Homo sapiens: one gene and its partners. The protein of the gene in region 1 purifies or fractionates together with the protein of each later gene. This does not show direct contact. Each region holds a gene or a part of one and is shown in the gene's direction. Other genes may lie near its edges.

Evidence for each region.
Region 2: the proteins of BRINP2 (region 1) and ACSL4 purify together in Homo sapiens (affinity purification with mass spectrometry; one large-scale study listed by BioGRID and IntAct). This does not show direct contact.
Region 3: the proteins of BRINP2 (region 1) and ACSL1 purify together in Homo sapiens (affinity purification with mass spectrometry; one large-scale study listed by BioGRID and IntAct). This does not show direct contact.
Region 4: the proteins of BRINP2 (region 1) and NPTN purify together in Homo sapiens (affinity purification with mass spectrometry; one large-scale study listed by BioGRID and IntAct). This does not show direct contact.
Region 5: the proteins of BRINP2 (region 1) and SPG7 purify together in Homo sapiens (affinity purification with mass spectrometry; one large-scale study listed by BioGRID and IntAct). This does not show direct contact.
Region 6: the proteins of BRINP2 (region 1) and NLRX1 purify together in Homo sapiens (affinity purification with mass spectrometry; one large-scale study listed by BioGRID and IntAct). This does not show direct contact.

The regions. Positions count from the first base shown.
Region 1 is NC_000001.11:177,278,958-177,282,922, forward strand, and holds the end of BRINP2 (BMP/retinoic acid-inducible neural-specific protein 2 precursor), read left to right. Parts: intron 1-1,454; coding exon 1,455-2,571; 3' UTR 2,572-3,465; downstream 3,466-3,965. UniProt on the Homo sapiens protein: Inhibits neuronal cell proliferation by negative regulation of the cell cycle transition.
Region 2 is NC_000023.11:109,723,258-109,726,757, reverse strand, and holds part of ACSL4 (long-chain-fatty-acid--CoA ligase 4), read left to right. Parts: intron 1-3,500. UniProt on the Homo sapiens protein: Catalyzes the conversion of long-chain fatty acids to their active form acyl-CoA for both synthesis of cellular lipids, and degradation via beta-oxidation. Preferentially activates arachidonate and eicosapentaenoate as substrates.
Region 3 is NC_000004.12:184,755,095-184,757,531, reverse strand, and holds the end of ACSL1 (long-chain-fatty-acid--CoA ligase 1), read left to right. Parts: intron 1-266; coding exon 267-407; 3' UTR 408-1,937; downstream 1,938-2,437. UniProt on the Homo sapiens protein: Catalyzes the conversion of long-chain fatty acids to their active form acyl-CoAs for both synthesis of cellular lipids, and degradation via beta-oxidation. Preferentially uses palmitoleate, oleate and linoleate.
Region 4 is NC_000015.10:73,570,890-73,574,389, reverse strand, and holds part of NPTN (neuroplastin isoform b precursor), read left to right. Parts: intron 1-594; coding exon 595-728; intron 729-3,500. UniProt on the Homo sapiens protein: Probable homophilic and heterophilic cell adhesion molecule involved in long term potentiation at hippocampal excitatory synapses through activation of p38MAPK. May also regulate neurite outgrowth by activating the FGFR1 signaling pathway.
Region 5 is NC_000016.10:89,511,403-89,514,902, forward strand, and holds part of SPG7 (mitochondrial inner membrane m-AAA protease component paraplegin isoform 1 precursor), read left to right. Parts: intron 1-1,545; coding exon 1,546-1,635; intron 1,636-3,500. UniProt on the Homo sapiens protein: Catalytic component of the m-AAA protease, a protease that plays a key role in proteostasis of inner mitochondrial membrane proteins, and which is essential for axonal and neuron development.
Region 6 is NC_000011.10:119,175,225-119,178,724, forward strand, and holds part of NLRX1 (NLR family member X1 isoform 1 precursor), read left to right. Parts: coding exon 1-50; intron 51-3,500.

The DNA.
Region 1 (3,965 bases):
AAGTGAGAGAGAGAAAAAAAGATGGGCTGATTTTACTATTATCTAAATTATAGTTGATTCAAATGTTATTCTAGTAATACTCTAATTCTCATTTACTGATTTCCATTTTAATAAGTCTTAGAAAAAAAGGGATGGAGTTAAATTTCATCCAGCAATTGCATCTGATGAAAAACACACACACTGGCTTGTGTCAAACAAATGATTCTGCTCTGGGTCACAGGAGGAAAAAAAGTGGAGACCTGCACCCTCAGGGATACAGTGGGGCTGTATCATTACAAGTATCCACTTGTTCATCCACTGATTCATTTATTTATTTAACAAGTTTTTGAATCCGTATTCCATGCCTTACTATTAAGCTGCAGGGGTATTCATGAATTGGAAAGATTTAACAAACAGAAACATAAAAACTAGAAAATTATAACTATGTGGCAACCACTTAAATTTATGGTGGTAGAACATAAATCAAACGGATAGTCTCCTAGAGGTAAAACCAGAAATGAAAGCTTCCTTGGAGAAGAAAATCTTGGCCACATTTTGTGGGAAGAGAGGGAAATGATCTGGTACATGTGAGGTAGGACAGTCTTCCAGGCAAAGGAGCTGCCTTCACGGCCAGCAACCCAGTGGTACAGCTCTATCAGAGGCACAGGTAAGAAGAGAAGCATACGAAGAAGTGGTTTTGAGAGGAGTTCATTTATTCTTCTTTCAACAAATAATGATTAAAGGCTTACCATGCACAGAAACAATTCTCATTTCTGAGAAGCTGTTGGTCTCAAGACAGTGTTCCTTCTTTCATGGTATTTACTAACAGGGAAGCCGTTTATAAACAAGTAAACAATAAATAAATAATTTCAGCTACTGATAATTTTCATGGATTGAATAAAACAGGGTTACGTGATGGAGAATGAGTGTGGTGGTTCTTTCGGCAGGGACATCAGGAAAGACTTCTTTGAAGAGGTAACATAAGAGCTAAAATCAAAATTTTAAGAGAATCAGCCATATAAAATTTCTGTTCTTGGTGGAGGAGTGAGAGGAGCAGAGAGAATAGAAAGGACAGAAACCTTGAAGAGGGAATGGAAGTTGGCAAGAAGTTAGAAGATTTGAAGAACCATCTTATTTAGAAGGCTGAAAACAGATTTGACACAAAAGATGCTGGAGATCCTCTGTAGGTTTTTGAATAAGGGAATGAAGTAGGACTTGGGAGAGATGAGCCTTGTTGCTCTCAGTACAAATTTGGTGTCCAGTATTTCTGGTGCTGACCCATCAGACACAGAGCTCTAGGCTTTGCTCAATCAGTCCAAAGTAGCAAAGTAGAGTTTCTGCCACTCAGAGATCTTGGGGATTTTATTTTCCTCATTGCCTTCCACGCCTAGTGGTCAATGTCTTGCTGCCCTTAAGAAGGGTGTCAGTGTGTGACTTCTTTTGACTCTTACTTCATTTTATCTCTGCTCCCCAAGGTCCTTGTCCTACTGGTGGAACCGAATCCAGTCCCTCCTCTACTGTGGGGAAAGCACCTTTCCTGGCACTTTCCTGGAACAGAGCCACAGCTGCACCTGCCCCTATGACCAATCTTCCTGCCAGGGCCCCATCCCATGTGCCTTGGGCGAAGGGCCCGCGTGTGCCCACTGTGCTCCAGACAATAGCACACGCTGTGGGAGCTGCAACCCGGGCTATGTGCTGGCCCAGGGGCTGTGCCGGCCAGAGGTGGCCGAGTCCCTGGAAAACTTTCTTGGGCTGGAGACAGACTTGCAGGACCTGGAGCTAAAGTACCTGCTGCAGAAGCAGGATAGCCGCATTGAGGTACACTCCATCTTCATCAGCAATGACATGCGGCTGGGCAGCTGGTTTGACCCTTCCTGGAGGAAGCGCATGCTGCTCACCCTGAAGAGCAACAAGTACAAGCCTGGGCTGGTGCACGTGATGTTGGCCTTGTCCTTGCAGATCTGTCTCACCAAGAACAGCACCCTGGAGCCTGTCATGGCCATCTACGTCAACCCCTTTGGGGGCAGCCACTCTGAGAGCTGGTTCATGCCTGTGAATGAGGGCAGCTTTCCTGACTGGGAAAGGACTAACGTGGATGCAGCTGCCCAGTGCCAAAACTGGACTATCACCTTGGGGAATAGGTGGAAGACTTTCTTTGAGACAGTTCATGTTTACCTACGGAGCCGAATCAAGTCCCTGGATGACAGCTCCAATGAGACAATCTACTATGAGCCCCTGGAGATGACTGATCCCTCTAAGAATTTGGGTTACATGAAAATTAACACCTTGCAGGTCTTTGGCTACAGCCTGCCCTTTGACCCAGATGCTATCCGGGACTTAATTCTCCAGTTGGACTACCCATATACTCAAGGTTCCCAGGACTCTGCACTCTTGCAGCTCATTGAGCTCAGGGACCGGGTGAACCAGCTTTCTCCACCTGGCAAAGTCCGACTTGACCTTTTCTCCTGCTTGCTCCGGCATCGGCTTAAGCTGGCCAACAATGAGGTGGGCAGGATCCAGTCCTCCCTGAGGGCTTTCAATTCTAAGCTGCCAAACCCTGTGGAATATGAGACCGGCAAACTCTGTAGCTAATGGGCGGCCCACTTCAGCACTGGGCAAGGAGGGGATCCATGAATCTGGGGTACAAAGATAATCTAAGCCCTCACCTTAGTGCCAACAGGGTGTGCTCCCACGAGACTTTCAGCATCCAGTAGATGGGACCTCGAGGCTCGAGCTGAAGCAGGCGAGAGAGAAACAGCTACTGCGTGCGTGCGCGCACGCATACACACACACACACACACACTGGCACAGGGAGGCTACAACTAAGCAGCCTCAGATCTGTAAAGTTGATTGGTGCTTTCTAAAATGAATGCAATTGAAAGAAAGGAGCCAAGGAAGAGATTAAGAAAAAGAACCAGCTGAACCATGAAACAAACAAAAATCCTAAAAGTGATTCTTGTCATTCAAGAAAGCAAGAGGGGACAACAATGGGAGGGGTCGGAGCTCTTCCTTCCCCTCTGTGGAGTCACTTTTGTATTCTTTTTAACCAGATTTCTTAAAATGTTGTTGTTTTGTGAATCCTGACATTGGTTCTTACTTTTGTATGCTGCCTCCTCTGTGCCCTCCCAGACGCTGACTGGGAAACACAAGAAGTACAACCAACAGGAACCAGCGCCAAGGGCAGGCAGCGGCCTCCTTGCTCCCCTCCCTTACTCCTCCCTCTGCTGCCTCCTCCCCCCACCAAGTTTCAGGGCCCTGGATTGTTCCCAGTTCCCATTGTGGTCCCTTCAGAGCTCCTTTCCAACAGCATCTCTCTGTCGAAGAAAGAAGCTCTGTCAAGTTAGAGAGAGACAATGTGTAGGAAATGTTCTTTTTTAAAAAAAAATAACAAAAACAAAACAAAACTATTTATTTTGTGATTGTTTTCCTTGTTAATCTGCTCCAACCACCTGAACATCTAAGTAAACATTTATCTGGTTTAATATATTTTTGGAAAAGGCCTTTTTTAGGGGGAAAAATGAGAGAAAAAAGAAAAAAAAAAAGAGAGTATAGTCCCCTGGGTTACCTGGATTTTTCTTTTTAATTGCTATTTGCATGACACAAGAGTGTCCATGAAGCGGGGATAGTACTGTGTGGGAAGCTGGTTGATTGACAGATACACAAGTTACACAAGTGAATGAGTGCCTGTGTTGACTGGGCTGTGAGGGGTGTATGAGAGAGAGAGGTTAAATGAGAAGCGAGGTAGTACTATCCCAGAGTTATCTCACTACACTCCCATCACCTTTTTTTTCTCCCTGGGTGTGAGGGCTAACATGGGTCCTAAAACCAGGATTTCCCACATGGGGAGAATAGTTAAAAAGGTCTTGCTCGTAAGAGGAACTGCAGTCTTTGCACTGGGCAAAGTCCTGCTAAAGGGGCTCCTCTTTGTCGACACTGCTGCAGACATTAGGAGAATTTCCCATATGCTGCATCTTATGATCTGGGAT
Region 2 (3,500 bases), on another chromosome or scaffold:
GCAGAGAGCTATGATTGCACCACTGCACTCTGGCCTGGGTGATAGAGCGAGACCCTGTCTCAAAAAATAAATAAATAAAATAAATAAAAATGAAAAAGCTTCTACATATGCATTAGAAGCTTTAATTGACCTCCACTTAATTGACTCACCACATTGAATAATTTTTATTTCCTTTGTAAAATACAGTGTACACTGAATACTTGGTATTAGTTGGTTGATCTCCAGTACTCCAGCGTGCTTGTTTACCTACCAGTACAGTAAATTTTTTTACTACTAAACCTGTATATGTTGGTTGTATTTGTTTTTTTGTTTGTTGGTTGGTTTGTTTGTTTTTGAGATGGAGTTTTGCTCTTGTTGCCCAGGCTGGAGTGCAATGGTGCAATCTCGGCTCACTGCAACCTCTGCCTCCTGGGTTCAAGCAATTCTCCTGCCTTAGCCTCCCGAGTAGCTGGGATTATAGGTGCCCACCACCATGCCTGGCTAATTTTTTTTGTATTTTTAGTAGAGACGGGGTTTTGCCATGTTGGCCAGGCTGGTCTTGAACTCCTGACCTCAGGTGATCCACTTGCCTCAGCCTCCCAGAATGCTGGGATTACAGGCGTGAGCCACCGTGCTAAGCCTGCTTGTATTTGTTTTTAAAAGGTAATTTGTTTAATATGTTGTAACCTGACAATATATGAGTGGGGGAGATTGGAGTTCTTTTTACTGAAAATTTACAAATGAAATAATATGATGTCTGGGATTTGCTTAACATTATACAAGGGGTGAGGGATGGAGGTGGGTTGTGGGTAGTATGGAAGAAACACAATTCAGCACATATGAATAACTGTTGAAGCTGGGTGATGGTTACATTAGATTCATTATGATGAAACAAATTGTTTTGAGAAGAGTTAATGAAAACAAGTTGCAAAAAAAAATACTGTCCGCTTAAATGTGGGTAAGATGACTATACAAGATACGTGGAAAAAATATAAAAATCTAAAAGAGTTTTATTTTATTTTATTTTATTTTATTTTTTGAGATGGAGTCTCGCTCTTTTGCCCAGGCTGGAGTGCAGTGGCGTGATCTCGGCTCACTGTAAGCTCCACCTCCCGGGTTCACGCCATTCTCCTGACTACAGGCGCCCTCCACCACACCTGGCTAATTTTTTTGTATTTTTAGTAGAGACAGGGTTTCACCGTGTTAGCCAGGATGGTCTCGATCTCCTGACCTCGTGATCCGCCCGCCTTGGCCTCCCAGAGTGCTGGGGTTATAGGTGTGAGCCACCGCACCAGCCATCTAAAAGGGTTTTATACTCACATTACTTGTCAAATGTAAAATCAATGGGCCTGGAGTTAGAGAAAAAGGTCTTGGCCTCTTGGCCCCATATAGAAAGTTTGAGGCTGGCATGGTGGCTCATGCTTGTAATCCCAACATTTTAGGGGGCCAAAGCAGGAGGATTGCTTGAAGCCAGTTCAAGACCAGCCTGAGCAACATAGCAAGACCCTGTCTCAAAAAAAAAAAAAAAAAATAGCTGGGTGTGGTGGCACACACCTGTAGTCCCCAGTCACTCAGGAGGCTGAGACAGGAGGATTGCTTGAGGCCAGGAGTTCAAGGTTGCAGTGAGTCATGATCACACCACTGCATTCCAACCTGGGAGACAGAGTGAGATCCTGTCTTTAAATAAAAAAACAAAACAAAACAAAAACAAAAAAAACCCCAGGTCAGGTACAGTGCGTCATGCCTGTAATCCCAGCACTTTGGAAGGCCAAGGCAGGCAGATCTCTTGAGGCCAGGAGTTTGAGACCAGCCTGGGCAACATGGTGAAACCCCATCTCTACAGAAAATTTTTATTATTATTATTATTGAGACGGAATCTCGCTCTGTCGCCCAGGCTGGAGTGCAGTGGCATGATCTCGGCTCACTACAACCTCCGTCTCACAGATTCAAGCGATTCTTCTGCCTCAGCCACCCGAGTAGCTGGGATTACAGGTGCCCACCACCACACCCGGCTAATTTTTGTATTTTTAGTAGAGATGAGGTTTCGCCATGTTGGCCAGGCTGGTCTCAAACTCCTGACCTCAAGTGATCTGCCTGCCTCAGCTTCCCAAAGTGCTGAGACTACAGGCGTGAGCCACCACGCCTAGCCCAAAAAATACAAAAATTTAGTTGGGCATGGTGCCATGTGCCTATGGTTCCAACTACTGGGGAAGCTGAGGTGGGAGGATTGCTTGAGCCCAGTAGGTGGAGGTTGTAGTGAACTATGATCACTCACGTCATTGCATTCCACCCTGGGTGACAGAGTGAGACCTTGTCTCAAAAAAACAAAAACAAAAATTAGCCAGGCATGGTGATGCACAACTGTAGTCCCAGATACTTGGGAGGCTGTGGCAGGAGGATAGCTTGTGCCCGGGAGGCAGAGGTTGCAGCGATCCAAGGTCACTCCACTGCATTCCAGCCTGGGCATCAGAGCAAAACCCTGTCTCAGAAACAAACAAAAAAACAAAAAAGCCCCCCAAAAATAAATAAACCAAAACCACACACACACAAAGTTTGTTGAATGAGTATATATATACCACTGATGAAAGGAAGGTGAAATGTTTGCCATACATATTTTTATGATCGTTTACCTGAAATTAACCTTTTAAATTACATAACCAATTGTTCTAAATCACATTAGATAAAAGGGTTTCTACTGCATAATATCCATAATATATAAAGAGCTCCTAAAGATCAATAAGAGAAAGGTACCCACTACAAAAAGCAAAAAGTGGCAGAAGATTATACATGGGCATTTCCCAGGAAAAGAAGTACTGGTGAATAAAAAAGAAAAGATGTTCAAATTGACTCTGGTTATTAGGGAAATGTAAACCGTTTTTCACCAGACAGATTGGCAAGAACTTAATATCCACTTTTAACAAATAGGCATTTGCATACACTGTTAATGAGAGTTCACATGTATAACTCTTTGCTGAAGAATACCAAAATCATCTCATTTTTAAATGTGCATACATTTTGACCCAATAGTTTTATTAGAAAACAATTCTAGGGAAATATTACATGTGTATAAAACTATGTATAAGGTTTCGCTGCAGTGAAACTGTTTGTAACTGTGAAAATTTGGCAGTATCCTAAATATCCATCAGTAGGGAATGATTTAAATAATGGTAAGTTATACTGTGGAATACCATTGAGTTATTAAATAAAAAAAGAAGAAAAGCCTCTTGGTTAGACATATATATACACTGACATAGGAGTTCCAAAGTATGCTGTTAAGCAGGGGAAGAGAGGGGGAGGGAGTCAAAGAACAGTTGTATACCATAATTCCACTTATCTAAAAATAAACCCTTATCATGTGTATGGGTAATACAAAACAATCTGATTGATACACATCAAGAGTAATTATCCCTAGAGGAAAAGAGAGTGGTGTTAGAGGAGGGCAGTATAGTTTTACTTTTTCTCTGTACAATTCTATATTATATATTATAATTTACAATTACAATTTTGATAGTAGGTATGCA
Region 3 (2,437 bases), on another chromosome or scaffold:
CATGAGGAATAAATAATGGAGTAGTTTGACAGGGGAAAGGTTTTTAAATCAAAAGCATTTATTCTCTTTTCCTGGATATCAGAATATGATCCCGAATCCTATCCTAAGAATAGGATGCCTGTCCTTTGTTGAGAAGGTGCAGCTTGGCTGAAATGAGAGGATGGATTGGATGGCTGGAGAGTGTTGATCCCCTCCAAGGCTTACGTGCTTTTGAGACTGGTGGCCCGTGTCCTTTTTCCTCTTTTAACTGCCTTGTTTATTGGCAGGTCAAAGGCATCACATTGCACCCTGAATTATTTTCTATCGACAATGGCCTTCTGACTCCAACAATGAAGGCGAAAAGGCCAGAGCTGCGGAACTATTTCAGGTCGCAGATAGATGACCTCTATTCCACTATCAAGGTTTAGTGTGAAGAAGAAAGCTCAGAGGAAATGGCACAGTTCCACAATCTCTTCTCCTGCTGATGGCCTTCATGTTGTTAATTTTGAATACAGCAAGTGTAGGGAAGGAAGCGTTCGTGTTTGACTTGTCCATTCGGGGTTCTTCTCATAGGAATGCTAGAGGAAAGAGAACACTGCCTTACAGTCACCTCATGTTGCAGACCATGTTTATGGTAATACACACTTTCCAAAATGAGCCTTAAAAATTGTAAAGGGGATACTATAAATGTGCTAAGTTATTTGAGACTTCCTCAGTTTAAAAAGTGGGTTTTAAATCTTCTGTCTCCCTGTTTCTCTAATCAAGGGGTTAGGACTTTGCTATCTCTGAGATGTCTGCTACTTGCTGCAAATTCTGCAGCTGTCTGCTGCTCTAAAGAGTACAGTGCACTAGAGGGAAGTGTTCCCTTTAAAAATAAGAACAACTGTCCTGGCTGGAGAATCTCACAAGCGGACCAGAGATCTTTTTAAATCCCTGCTACTGTCCCTTCTCACAGGCATTCACAGAACCCTTCTGATTCGTAAGGGTTACGAAACTCATGTTCTTCTCCAGTCCCCTGTGGTTTCTGTTGGAGCATAAGGTTTCCAGTAAGCGGGAGGGCAGATCCAACTCAGAACCATGCAGATAAGGAGCCTCTGGCAAATGGGTGCTCATCAGAACGCGTGGATTCTCTTTCATGGCAGAATGCTCTTGGACTCGGTTCTCCAGGCCTGATTCCCCGACTCCATCCTTTTTCAGGGGTTATTTAAAAATCTGCCTTAGATTCTATAGTGAAGACAAGCATTTCAAGAAAGAGTTACCTGGATCAGCCATGCTCAGCTGTGACGCCTGAATAACTGTCTACTTTATCTTCACTGAACCACTCACTCTGTGTAAAGGCCAACAGATTTTTAATGTGGTTTTCATATCAAAAGATCATGTTGGGATTAACTTGCCTTTTTCCCCAAAAAATAAACTCTCAGGCAAGCATTTCTTTAAAGCTATTAAGGGAGTATATACTTGAGTACTTATTGAAATGGACAGTAATAAGCAAATGTTCTTATAATGCTACCTGATTTCTATGAAATGTGTTTGACAAGCCAAAATTCTAGGATGTAGAAATCTGGAAAGTTCATTTCCTGGGATTCACTTCTCCAGGGATTTTTTAAAGTTAATTTGGGAAATTAACAGCAGTTCACTTTATTGTGAGTCTTTGCCACATTTGACTGAATTGAGCTGTCATTTGTACATTTAAAGCAGCTGTTTTGGGGTCTGTGAGAGTACATGTATTATATACAAGCACAACAGGGCTTGCACTAAAGAATTGTCATTGTAATAACACTACTTGGTAGCCTAACTTCATATATGTATTCTTAATTGCACAAAAAGTCAATAATTTGTCACCTTGGGGTTTTGAATGTTTGCTTTAAGTGTTGGCTATTTCTATGTTTTATAAACCAAAACAAAATTTCCAAAAACAATGAAGGAAACCAAAATAAATATTTCTGCATTTCAGGTGAGTGAGGCATCTTTTTTAATGTCATGTTTAATATTCGGAACAGCCTGTAATGTGCACAAGCGAAGAGCAAGAATGGCCCTGGGCCTGGAATCCTTCCCAGTTGTCTTCTTTTCTTCTTAGTCACCCTCCTCTAACTCAGCTGGCCTCAGGCACTGACAGACACTGACCCGAGCCTCCCACCAGGTTGTCTGTGGCAAAAGTCCTAACTGGTTGTGGAAAAGAAAGTCATGGTGTGAATAACAGAGAAGGTCCTGAAAATGCAGCTTCCTTGCTGGAAAATGTATTTCAGGCGACGCTGGCTGTAACTGGTGATTCCGTGGTGAATGTAATCCCACTATTGTATTTTAGCACTGTTTAGTCATTCTCTTACTGTAGAATTATTTCAGATGTCTCTTTATAGCAGCCAACTTTTTCTTGTTTCTTTTCTTCTATCTCCACCCTATTCCTTCTGTTACCATTTTAAAGATTTTCTTTTCCACAGGTATTAATGAATCAACCCCC
Region 4 (3,500 bases), on another chromosome or scaffold:
TCCTGTTCATTCCTTTCTTCCTCCTTGTGAAGACCAGTTTCTGGATTCCCTCTTTCCTGGGAGAGCCTTGGTCATTGTTACTTATTGAGTAGCTTCTCCAAGCATTCATTGTTTTTACATACCTTGTAATAGGACTTGATTGTAGTTGTTTTATCTCAGAATCTCATTTCCTTAAGGGAATGTGTGATATTTGACAGGATGCATAACTGTTGTTCATGCAGGTGTTTTAAGAAAAAACTTGGGCCGATAGAAGAGATAATAGTGTTTGTTTGCATTTTCTTTAAAGGTAGGCTTAATTGAGGGCAGTTGGACCTGCATCCTTTTCCAGTAGGTTGGAGAATCACCTACATTAGTAGAGCCTCATATATTAGTAACCCTGGTATCTGCCTGGGCATCTTTAGCGGGTGGGGGGTAGAGGATGGGTTTGGTCCCTTTACCCTATTCTGACCTGAAATGCTCTTCATCAAAGCTGAGTATGACAGTAAGCATAAAGACTGACTACATTACAAGCAGGGCTCTGAGCCAGAAGGTGGGGCCTTTGTATCCTGTTTGGAGTAGACTTCCGTGGTAACTGCGTCTAACGCTTTCTCACAGCCGCTCCTGACATCACTGGCCATAAACGGAGTGAGAACAAGAATGAAGGGCAGGATGCCACTATGTATTGCAAGTCAGTTGGCTACCCCCACCCAGACTGGATATGGCGCAAGAAGGAGAACGGGATGCCCATGGTGAGTAGGAGGCAGGCCCGGGTCTCTGGTTGCTGGAGTTTTCCCTGCAGAGGTCCAGACACGTGGGTCAGTTACTGTAGTAGCTGTATCCTCGGATGTGTGCATGGCGAGGGTCACCCTTTCTAGAGTCACGGTTTACAGCATGAATCAAGAGGTCATTGACAGTCTCTTCCAGCACAAAAATCCCTGTACGTGATTTGTTAAAGCTGTCCCTCTGGTAAGAGATTAGATTGCTCACTGTATTAGTCCATTCTCACTTTGCTCTAAAGAACTTCCAGAGACTGGGTAATTTATAAAGAAAAAAGGTTTAATTGGCTCATGATTCCACAGGCTTTACAGGAAGCATTGCCGGGGAGGCCTCAGGAAACACAGGAAAGATGATCTTTCCTATCTTAGACAACAGAGTGACATCTGGCCTGCTTTGAGTTTTATTGCTTTCAGATTACTGTAACTGAAGGTGAGGCATTGACAGGTAATATAGTTAAGATAAAGCTAAATCCAAAGAATTAGCCTCCCCCTCAGGCTTCTTTGATCCTTGAAACTTACCTATTTTTTAGACTGCAGTTGCTGTTTATTTCTTCTTAAGTGATCCCTGTAAGTAGAGAAACTTAGAATCATGGTGGAAGGTGAAGGGGAAGCAGGCAGGTCCTAGGTGGCTGGAGAGGAGGAAGAGAGTGAAGGAGGGAGATGCTACACACTTTTAAACAACCGGGTCTCATGAGAATTCACTGTCAGGAGAACAGCAAAGGGGATATCCGCCCCCATGATCCTGTCACCTCCCACAAGGCCCCTCCTCCAACACTGGGGATTATAATTCACCATGAAATTGGGGTGAAGACAAAATCCAAACCATATCACTTGCCTTCAGGATAGGACACTGAAAGAACCGAGCCTAATTCTCGTCCATTTATCCTGAAGAAAATACTGTTTTTGAAGTGGTCTTAGAGAACCTGCCTTGTTTTTTTAGTAGGAAACAAGGTACTGAGGGCAATTATTAGTACATTCCTGCAACACAGAACATACTGATAAGGAATTGGGGCAACCTGAGGAGGCCCAAGGTACTGAGGGCAATTACTAGTACATTCCTGCAACACAGAACATACTGATAAGGAATCGGGGCAACCTGAGGAGGCCCAAGGGCAGCCTTGGCAGCCTTAGACATTGGGAACCTGACGGTATTTGCCCCAGAAAATGTCAAAGAGAACATCTTTTCCGATCAGTGGGATGATTCATGATGTTGTTTGGAGAGTCAGAGCTTTAGAACCTCACTTTCTCTCTCATTATGATTGTTGACCCATTACCTTTTCTGTCAGAGAGCGTGTCAAGCGTTCCTCTGATCCCATGGATCCTCTTTGATTATCAGTCTTCAGAATCCAAAAGGACCTTAAAGATCATTAATCCATCTTCTTTGGAAGGGTTCCATAGTAGCCAAGATAAATTAGTGGCAAAACCAAGAGTTGTATCTAGTTTTTTTAAATTTCAAGTCCATTATTCTTCCTACTTCATGACATCTTGATAATAAAATGTTGAGTTGTGATAATGACTCCAACATCAGCGATGATTTCAGAGACCCGTTAACGAGGAGCAGGATGAGGATTGCCGAGGTGAAGATGCTGAGTCTTTTTTACAAGACACTGAACTTTCTAAGGCACTGGAGAGGAAATGTCCACTTCTCTCTGCTGGTCACTGGGAAGGAGTGCCCTTGAGCTTTTGCCAAAGCAGGTTGGAATTAACGCAGTATGTGTTTTAATCTGAAAGATGAAGCTTGAGGCATCACAGACTAGCTGTTTTAAAAGCTTACGAGTTCCCCATTTCAGATGTACCTGCACTCAAATGCTGACAAGATTGTATGCCATATCTAGAATCATTTCCAGGATAATATTCCCCTTTTTCTCTCCTATTTCTGATTGTGCTTTAGTTGTTGCAGGGTAAAGACACATGAGTCTGTTTTTTCCCTGCCGGGATCTCATGAGCTGAGTGCAGTGAGCCATCCCGCTGAGTCCCGACCTCTGCCTGTGCACTCTTGCACCTCTGCCTTCACACCCATGCGAATCCCTGCCTGCACTGCTCCTCCCTGTTTGATCAGCTGTCCTCCTCCACAGTCTAGTGCAAATGTTAGCTCATGTGTGAAGCTTTCCCTGACTCTTTCCAGCAGTGGCCACTCACTGTGCCCTACAGCACTCTATACACACGCTCTGTTGGGGCTTCTTAACACATTCCTGAAATCAGTCATCCCTTTTTGGATGTCTGGTTCCCTTTTGAGGCCAAGCTCCTTATTCATTTCTAGGTCTGTCTTCTCCCTATCTCACCTTCTCACTCCCACCTGCCCTTAGTAGGATATAAAGCATGCAGCATATTTTAGTAAATATTTGTTCTCTTTTATTTGTTTGTTTTGTTTTGTGTTAAGACAGGGTCTTGATCTGTCTACCAGGCTGGAGTGCAGCAACCTCCTGGGCTCATGTGATCCTCCTGCCTCAGCCTTCTGTGTAGCTGGGACCACAGGTGTACACCACTATGCTCAGCTAATTTTATTTTTGATTTTTTGTAGAGATGGGGTCTCAGTTTGTTGCCAAGGCCAGTCTTGAACTCCTGGGCTCAAGCGATCCTCCCACCTTAGCTTCCTAAAGTGCTGAGATTACAGGCATGAGCCTCTGTGCCCAGCCACAAATATTTGTTGATTGATTGAATAACCTTTCCTCTAACCTCTAGTCCTTAAATGAAAGGAAAGTTATGAATTTCCCCCAGTCTGACTAGGAGTGAGTTCTTAGCATT
Region 5 (3,500 bases), on another chromosome or scaffold:
TTTCACGCTCCCCTTTATGGAGTTGGAACAGGGAAAAAGTAAAATATTTCTACTCCTAACTAACATTAAACAGCTTTGTGCCAACACATGGGTAGGGAGAGTGCCGTGCCCACTGGCCGTGCATCAGCAACTGGCTCATCTGCTGTCAGTGTTTAACGTCAGCTCACGGGTGCCTGTGGCTGTGAAACAGGAAGCACATGCTTCAGCCTCCTTAAGCCTGAGGTGACATGCAAGTGGCAACCGGGGCCGTTTCACTGGTGAACCCGTTCATGTCTTTGTGAAGAAAGTTACATTTCAGGTCATGGTTGTGAAACTCTTTCCCTATTTTTATTATTTTTTATTATTATTTGAGATAGGGTCTTGCCCTGTTGCCCAGGTGCAATCTCTACTCACTGCAGCTTCAACCTCCTGGGCCCAGGTTCTCCTCCCACTCAGCGTCCTGAGTAGCTGGGAAGTCAGGCATGTGTCACCACGTACAGCTACATTTTTGTGTTGTTGTTGTTGTTGTTGTTTATTATTATTTTTTTGAGACGGAGTCTTGCTCTGTCTCCCAGGCTGGAGTGCAGTGGCGCGATCTCCGCTCACTGCAAGCTCTGCCTCCAGGATTCCCGCCATTCTCCTGCCTCAGCCTCCCAAGTAGCTGGGATTACAGGTGCCCGCCACTATGCCCGGCTAATTTTTTGTATTTTTAGTAGAGACGGGGTTTCACCATGTTAGCCAGGATGGTCTCGATCTCCTGACCTCGTGATCCACCCGACTCGGCCTCCCAAAGTGCTGGGATTACAGGCGTGCGCCACTGCACCTGGCCTCCCCCATTTGTAAACGCTGATTTGTTCAGATTTTGAGACAGCTCTGTGTGAGGAGTGTCGTGCCGGCCCCTCTTGGTGGTGGCTGGGCTGCTGCTGTTGCCACTTGTCTGGAAACCATTTGTGAGTCGGAGTCTTGCTCTGTAAACCAGGCTGGAGTGCAGTGGTGTGATCTCAGCTCACTGCAACCTCCGCCTCCCGGGTTCAAGCAATTCTGCCTCAGCCTCCCAAGTAGCTGGGATTACAAGCGCCTGCCAACACGTCCGGCTAATTTTTGTATTTTTAGTGGAGACAGTGTTTCACCATCTCAGCCAGTCTGGTCTTGAACTCCTGACCTCGTGAACCACCTGCCTCGGTCTCCCAAAGTGCTGGGATTACAGGCATGAGCCACCACGCCTGGCGTGTTTAAGTTCTTTTAAAGCAACTTCATATATTAAAGGGATTCGTGATATTTTCCCAAATTTGTGTTCATAACTATTTTTTATTCCCTCACATTAGCAATTTAAGTAGCAAAGATATTTAACGTAAGTTAAAATAGTTTATTATTTTGTAATTAGGAAATACTGGACTAAGTGATATAGGATATGCTTTATTTCATATTTATAAATCTTATGGATATAAGTAGGTTTTTCAGATGGTTTTTGTTTTGCTTTGGTTATTTAGGAGTACACTGTTGTCCTGTATGCCTCCCCTGTGGTTGCAAAACTTAATTGTTAAATCCTTTCTCTATTTCTCATAGGTGGTACTTTCTATTTTAACACCTCAAGGTTGAAGCAGAAGAATAAGGAGAAGGATAAGTCGAAGGGGAAGGCGCCTGAAGAGGACGAAGGTATATTCATCTGATGTTCTTCAGTCAGTAGCTGCCTCTGGATGTCTTTACATTTCTGTTTTCCTTTTAGCAAGGTGAAACCAGTCTGGAAAATGGGGAGATGGGCCGGGTGCAGTGGCTCACACTTGTAATCGAAACGCTTTGGGAGGCCCAGGTGGAAGGATCACTTGAGGCCTATACCACATAGCGAGACCCTGTCTCACTGCAAATTAAAAGGCTGGGCGTGGTGGCTCACACCTGTAATCCCAGCACTTTGGGAGGCTGAGGCAGGCGGATCACCTGCACCCTGGCCAACATGGTGAAACCCCGTCTTTACTAAAAATAGAAAATTAGCCGGGCGTGATGGCACACGCCTGTAATCCCAGCTACTCGGGAGGCTGAGGCAGGAGAATTGCTTGAACCTGGGAGGTGGAGGTTGCTGTGAGTGGAGATCATGCCATTGCACTCCAGCCTGAGCAACAAGAGCAAAACTCCATCTCAAAAAAAAAAAAATTTAAATTTAAATTTAAAAAGACCCTATCTATACAGAAAGAAAAGAAGAAAATAATTGGCCAGGCGTGGTGGTGTGCACCTGTAGTCATAGCTCAGGAGTTGGAGGAGCTTGAGCCCAGGAGTTGGAGGCTCAGCTTCAGACTCACAGCCCCAGGGGGCAGAAGGGTTGAACTCAGCTTCAGGAATGCTTTGCTTTTGGATCCTTGAGGCCTCTCGCTGGAAATCAGCGTTGTTAAGATGGACGCCCTGCTCAGCAGAGCTCATCTTTCTAGAAAGGCACCTGGCCTTGGAAGGCGAGTGAGGAACTGTCATAAGGACTTTTTCTTCCCATGTTGCTTTTCAGGAAAGCTTTCAGGATGTGGAAATGATGGTTCAGCTATTGGATGAGGGGATTATTATTGTGAATTCGAGTTTAGCAGGAGTTTGTTTCAGGAGTGACGTCCTTCTTGATTGATTTTGTGTGAGACGCTGCATTTGCCAAGGCCAGGGACAGCTTTACTCTGTGAGAGAGGAGCTCTGACTCTCCCTACTGAGCTCTCGAGGGGAGGTCATAACTGCGGGAAGGGACACCAGTGTTTCGCAGGTGGATTCAGTTTAGGCGTTTCTGGCTTTAGGCTCATCTTCAGCTTACTGTTGGTTTTACGGTAAGTGTCAATGCTTACAGCCACTCAGAACTATCTTCTAAAAGACTTCTGAATCTTCATACAAAATTGTTCTGAATTGATTTCAGGGCTCTTTCCCTGTATACTTCAACATTTCAATAAAGTGTGTCCTTTGACTTTTTTTTTTTTTTTTTTTTTTTTTTTTTTTTGCCAGAATCTCACTCTGTTGCCCCGGCTGGAGTGCAGTGGTGCGATCTCAGCTCAATGCAACCTCCCCCTCCCGGGTTCAAGCAATTCTCCTGCCTCAGCCTCCGAAGTAGCTGGGATTACAGGTGCTCACCACCACACCCTGCTAATTTTTTGTTTTTTGTTCGTTTGTTTGTTTTTGAGACGGAGTCTCGCTCTGTCGCCCAGGCTGGAGTGCAGTGGCACAATCTCGGCTCACTGCAAGCTCCACTTCCTGGGTTCATGCCATTCTCCTGCCTCAGCCTCCCTAGTAGCTGGGACTACAGGCACCCGCCACCGCACCCGGCTAATTTTTTTGTTTTATTAGAGACTGGGTTTCACCATGTTAGCCAGGATGGTCTCGATCTCCTGACCTTGTGATCTGCTCACCTTGGCCTCCCAAAGTTCTAGGATTACAGGCGTGAGCCACCGCGTCAGGCCCTCTTTTTGTATAGTAGAGATGAGGTTTTGTCTTGTTGGCCAGGCTGGTCTCAAACTCCTGACCTCAGGTGATTCACCCACCTTGGCCTCCCAAAGTGCTGAGAT
Region 6 (3,500 bases), on another chromosome or scaffold:
CCAAGCTGCTGCCTCTGCGGGCTCTGCCTCTGCTCTTCAACCTGATCAAGGTAACATCCCGATCAAGGTAACCCCCCAACCTGCTCCTTCCCTCCCCAGCACCCCAAGCCGCCCACGCCCCCACATGGTTCCCTGTTCACCCCTTGCTCCTCTCCCAGCAGGAAACTGCTGCTTCCTGCAAAGGTATGAATCTTCTCCCTGGATCTGGTTTCAGCTCTGAGCATTTTGGCTTTTAGTGGGATTGCAGAGAGAGAAGCCACAAGGCTGGGGAAGGCTTGGTGGCTGGGGAAGGGAACCTGGGGACGTGGGGACTTTAATAATAATGCTACATGGATTCCTAAAAATGGTTTCCTTTTTGTGTCTTTCCTCCTAGGAGGCAGGCCTATCCTCTGCTTTGCAGGTCCAGAAACTCGATTGTGTCTGCTCCTCCAGAGGTGATTAGGCTCTGAGAGTGATGACTCATCCTAACTAAATCACCAGAGACGGGTTTATAAAGCAGATGCCATTTTATTCATTTATACTAGGAAGATAAATGGCATTGGTAATTGGCTTAGGGGAGTCATCATGAGGGCAGGTCCACTCCAGAAACCAAATTACAGACCTGAGGACTGTGCTGTGAGTGGCACAGCTGAGCGAGGTCTTTGAGGGCTGGAAGGAGCCACTCTGTGTGATGTGTGCCAGGCGCGTTATCAGTGTTCATCCTTTTGTTTTTCACATTACTCCTGGAAAGGAAATACTATTATGATCCCTTTTATAGATGAATAAACTGAGGCTCAGAGAGGTAAAGTAACTTGTCCAAGATCACTCAAATAGTAAGTTTAAAAGCCCAGGGCTTTGTGATTCTGAATCCTGTGCTCTTTCTGCCAAACTATACTGGTGCATTACGGATATGTCTGTCGAGCTGTGGGACCTTGCTAGGTAACCTTTGTTTTCTCTAGGAATGTTTCAGCAACGCATTTTGAGGAGGCAGAGTGCTGGTTAGTGCTGGCAGAATTTCAACACTTTTTAAAAATTTAAATGTATTTTTATTTTTATTTTTTGAGACAGAGTCTTACTCTGTTGCCCAGGCCTAGAGTGCAGTGGTGCAATCATAGCTCACTGCAGCTTCGACCTTCTGGGCTCAAGCAATCCTCCCACCTCAACTTCACTGAGTAGCTGGGACCTCAGGCATGTGCCACCATCCCCAGCTAATTTTTAAAATTTTAATTTTGTAGCCGGGTGCAGTGGCTCACGCCTGTAATCCCAGCACTTTGAGAGGCGAGGCAGGTAGATCACCTGAGGTCAGGAGTTTGAGACCAACCTGGCCAACATGGTTAACCAAGTGTGGTGCCGGGTGCCTGTAATCCCAGCTACTTGGGAGGCTGAGACGGGAGAATTGCTTGAGCCTGGGAGGCAGAGGTTGCAGTGAGCCAAGATTGCGCCACTGCACTCCAGCCTGAGCAACAGAGACTCCCTCTCAAAAATAAAAAAATAATAATAACAAAATTAAATTAAATTAAAAAATAAAAAATTTTTAATTTTGTAGAGATGGGGTCTCACTAGTGATCCTCTCACTTTGGCCTCCCAAAGTGCTGGGCTACAGGTGTGAACCACTGTGCCCAGCCAACTTTTTATTTTTATAGGCACCAAAGCATAAGGGCTAAGAACAGGGATTTGGTAACTCAGCTATTTGAGTTCAAATCCAGGCTCTGCTACTTATTAGCTGTGAGACTTTGGACAGGTTACTTAGTTCTGTGCCTCAGATTCCTTATCTGTGAAATGGAGATAATACTAGAACTTATATCACTGGCCTAATATGAAGATGAAATGAACTCATCCTCAGGGTCTAGGACATGGTAAGTGCTATTTAATTGTTTTTTGTTTGTTTGTTTTTTTGAGATGGAGTCTCGCTCTGTCGCCCAGGCTGGAGTGCAGTGGCACCGTCTCTGCTCACTGCAACCTCCACCTCCCGGATTTAAGTGATTCTCCCAGCTCAGCCTCCCAAGTAGCTGGGACTACAGGCACCTGCCACCATGCCCGGCTTATTTTTGTATTTTTAGTAGAGACAGGGTTTCTCCATGTTGGCCAGACTGGTCTTGAACTCCTGACCTCAGGTGATCCACCCACCTCAGCCTCCCACAGTGCTGGGATTACAGGAGTGAGCCACCACGCCCGGCCTATGCTGTTTAATTGTTTGTCACACATAGAAACAGACTTAGTTCCAGACCAGCCTGGCCAACATGGTGAAACCCCATCTCTACTAAAAATACAAAAATTAGCCGGGTGTGGTGGCACGTGTCTGTAATCCCAGCTACTCGGGAGGCTGAGGCAGGAGAATCTCTTGAGCCCAGGAAGTGGAGGTTGCAGTGAGCTGAGATCGCGCCACTGTACTCCAGCCTGGGTGACAGAGCGAGACTCTGTCTCACAAAAAAAAAAAAAGAAAAAAGAAAGAAACAAAGAAACAGGCTCGGGCAGCCCACCCCTTCTCACACATCACCTCCGACAGGAGGTCACAGCTGCTGCTGAGGCCACCCCGCCTTGAGGATGTGCCTGCCGGACCTGAGTTGCAACGAGAGGCTGCAGTCTCCCGAGGGGATTCAGAAAGCCCCCAGTTATTGAAAACCCAGCAGAATTGTCAGCCCTGCACCCCCAAGCCCTCTTGGAGGGAGGGTTGCCCTGGCAGAGCACTGAGCCCATCTGTTTATTCACCATCCTGTGGATTCAGCTTCACAGGGTGACATATTCTGTCACAGGTTGGTGTTGGAGAAGGGGCACTATCACCTCTATGAGAGTAACCTCACATATAAACATGAAAACAAGCCAGGTGCAGTGGGGCACACTTGTAGTCACAGCTGTCAGGAGGCCAAGGCAGGAGGATCGCTTGAGCCTAAGAGTTAAAGGCTACAGTGAGCTATGATCACACCACTGCACTCCAGCCTAGGTGACACAGCAAGACTCTGTCTCTAAACAAATAAAAATTAAAACATTAAAAAGTAAAAAAAACCCAGATGTTAAAGGACGTGCCACAAAACAACGTCATGGTTTGTTGCCAGAGGAATGACCCTTCTTCCCTTTCAGAACCATTGCAGGAATGGGGGAAGATATCACAAACCCCCAACATTTATTTCTTTGTCAGATATTTGAGTGCCTGCTGTGTGCCAGGCAATGTGTTAGAATCTGAGGAAATGTCAGTTAACAAAACTACAGGTTTCAGCCCTTTCTGATCTAGTCTGAGCTCCTCTCCCAGAAGGAAACTGCTACTTCCTGCACAGTTTGAGCACAAAAATATCAATGTAACCATATAAGGAAAAATTACAGCAAATGCCTGGGAAGAAGGAGCCCCAGATGCCATGAAAGTGTATAGTGGGGGAACTGGTCTGCGGGGTCAGGAGAGCCTCTTTGTGGAAGGGCATGTCGTCTGACCCTTGTAGCATTAGCCAAAGGAAGAAGTTGGGGGAGGGGAAATGCCCCAGGAAAGGGCAGCACCCTGGAGGCTTTTTTTTTTTTTTTTTCTCTTGAGA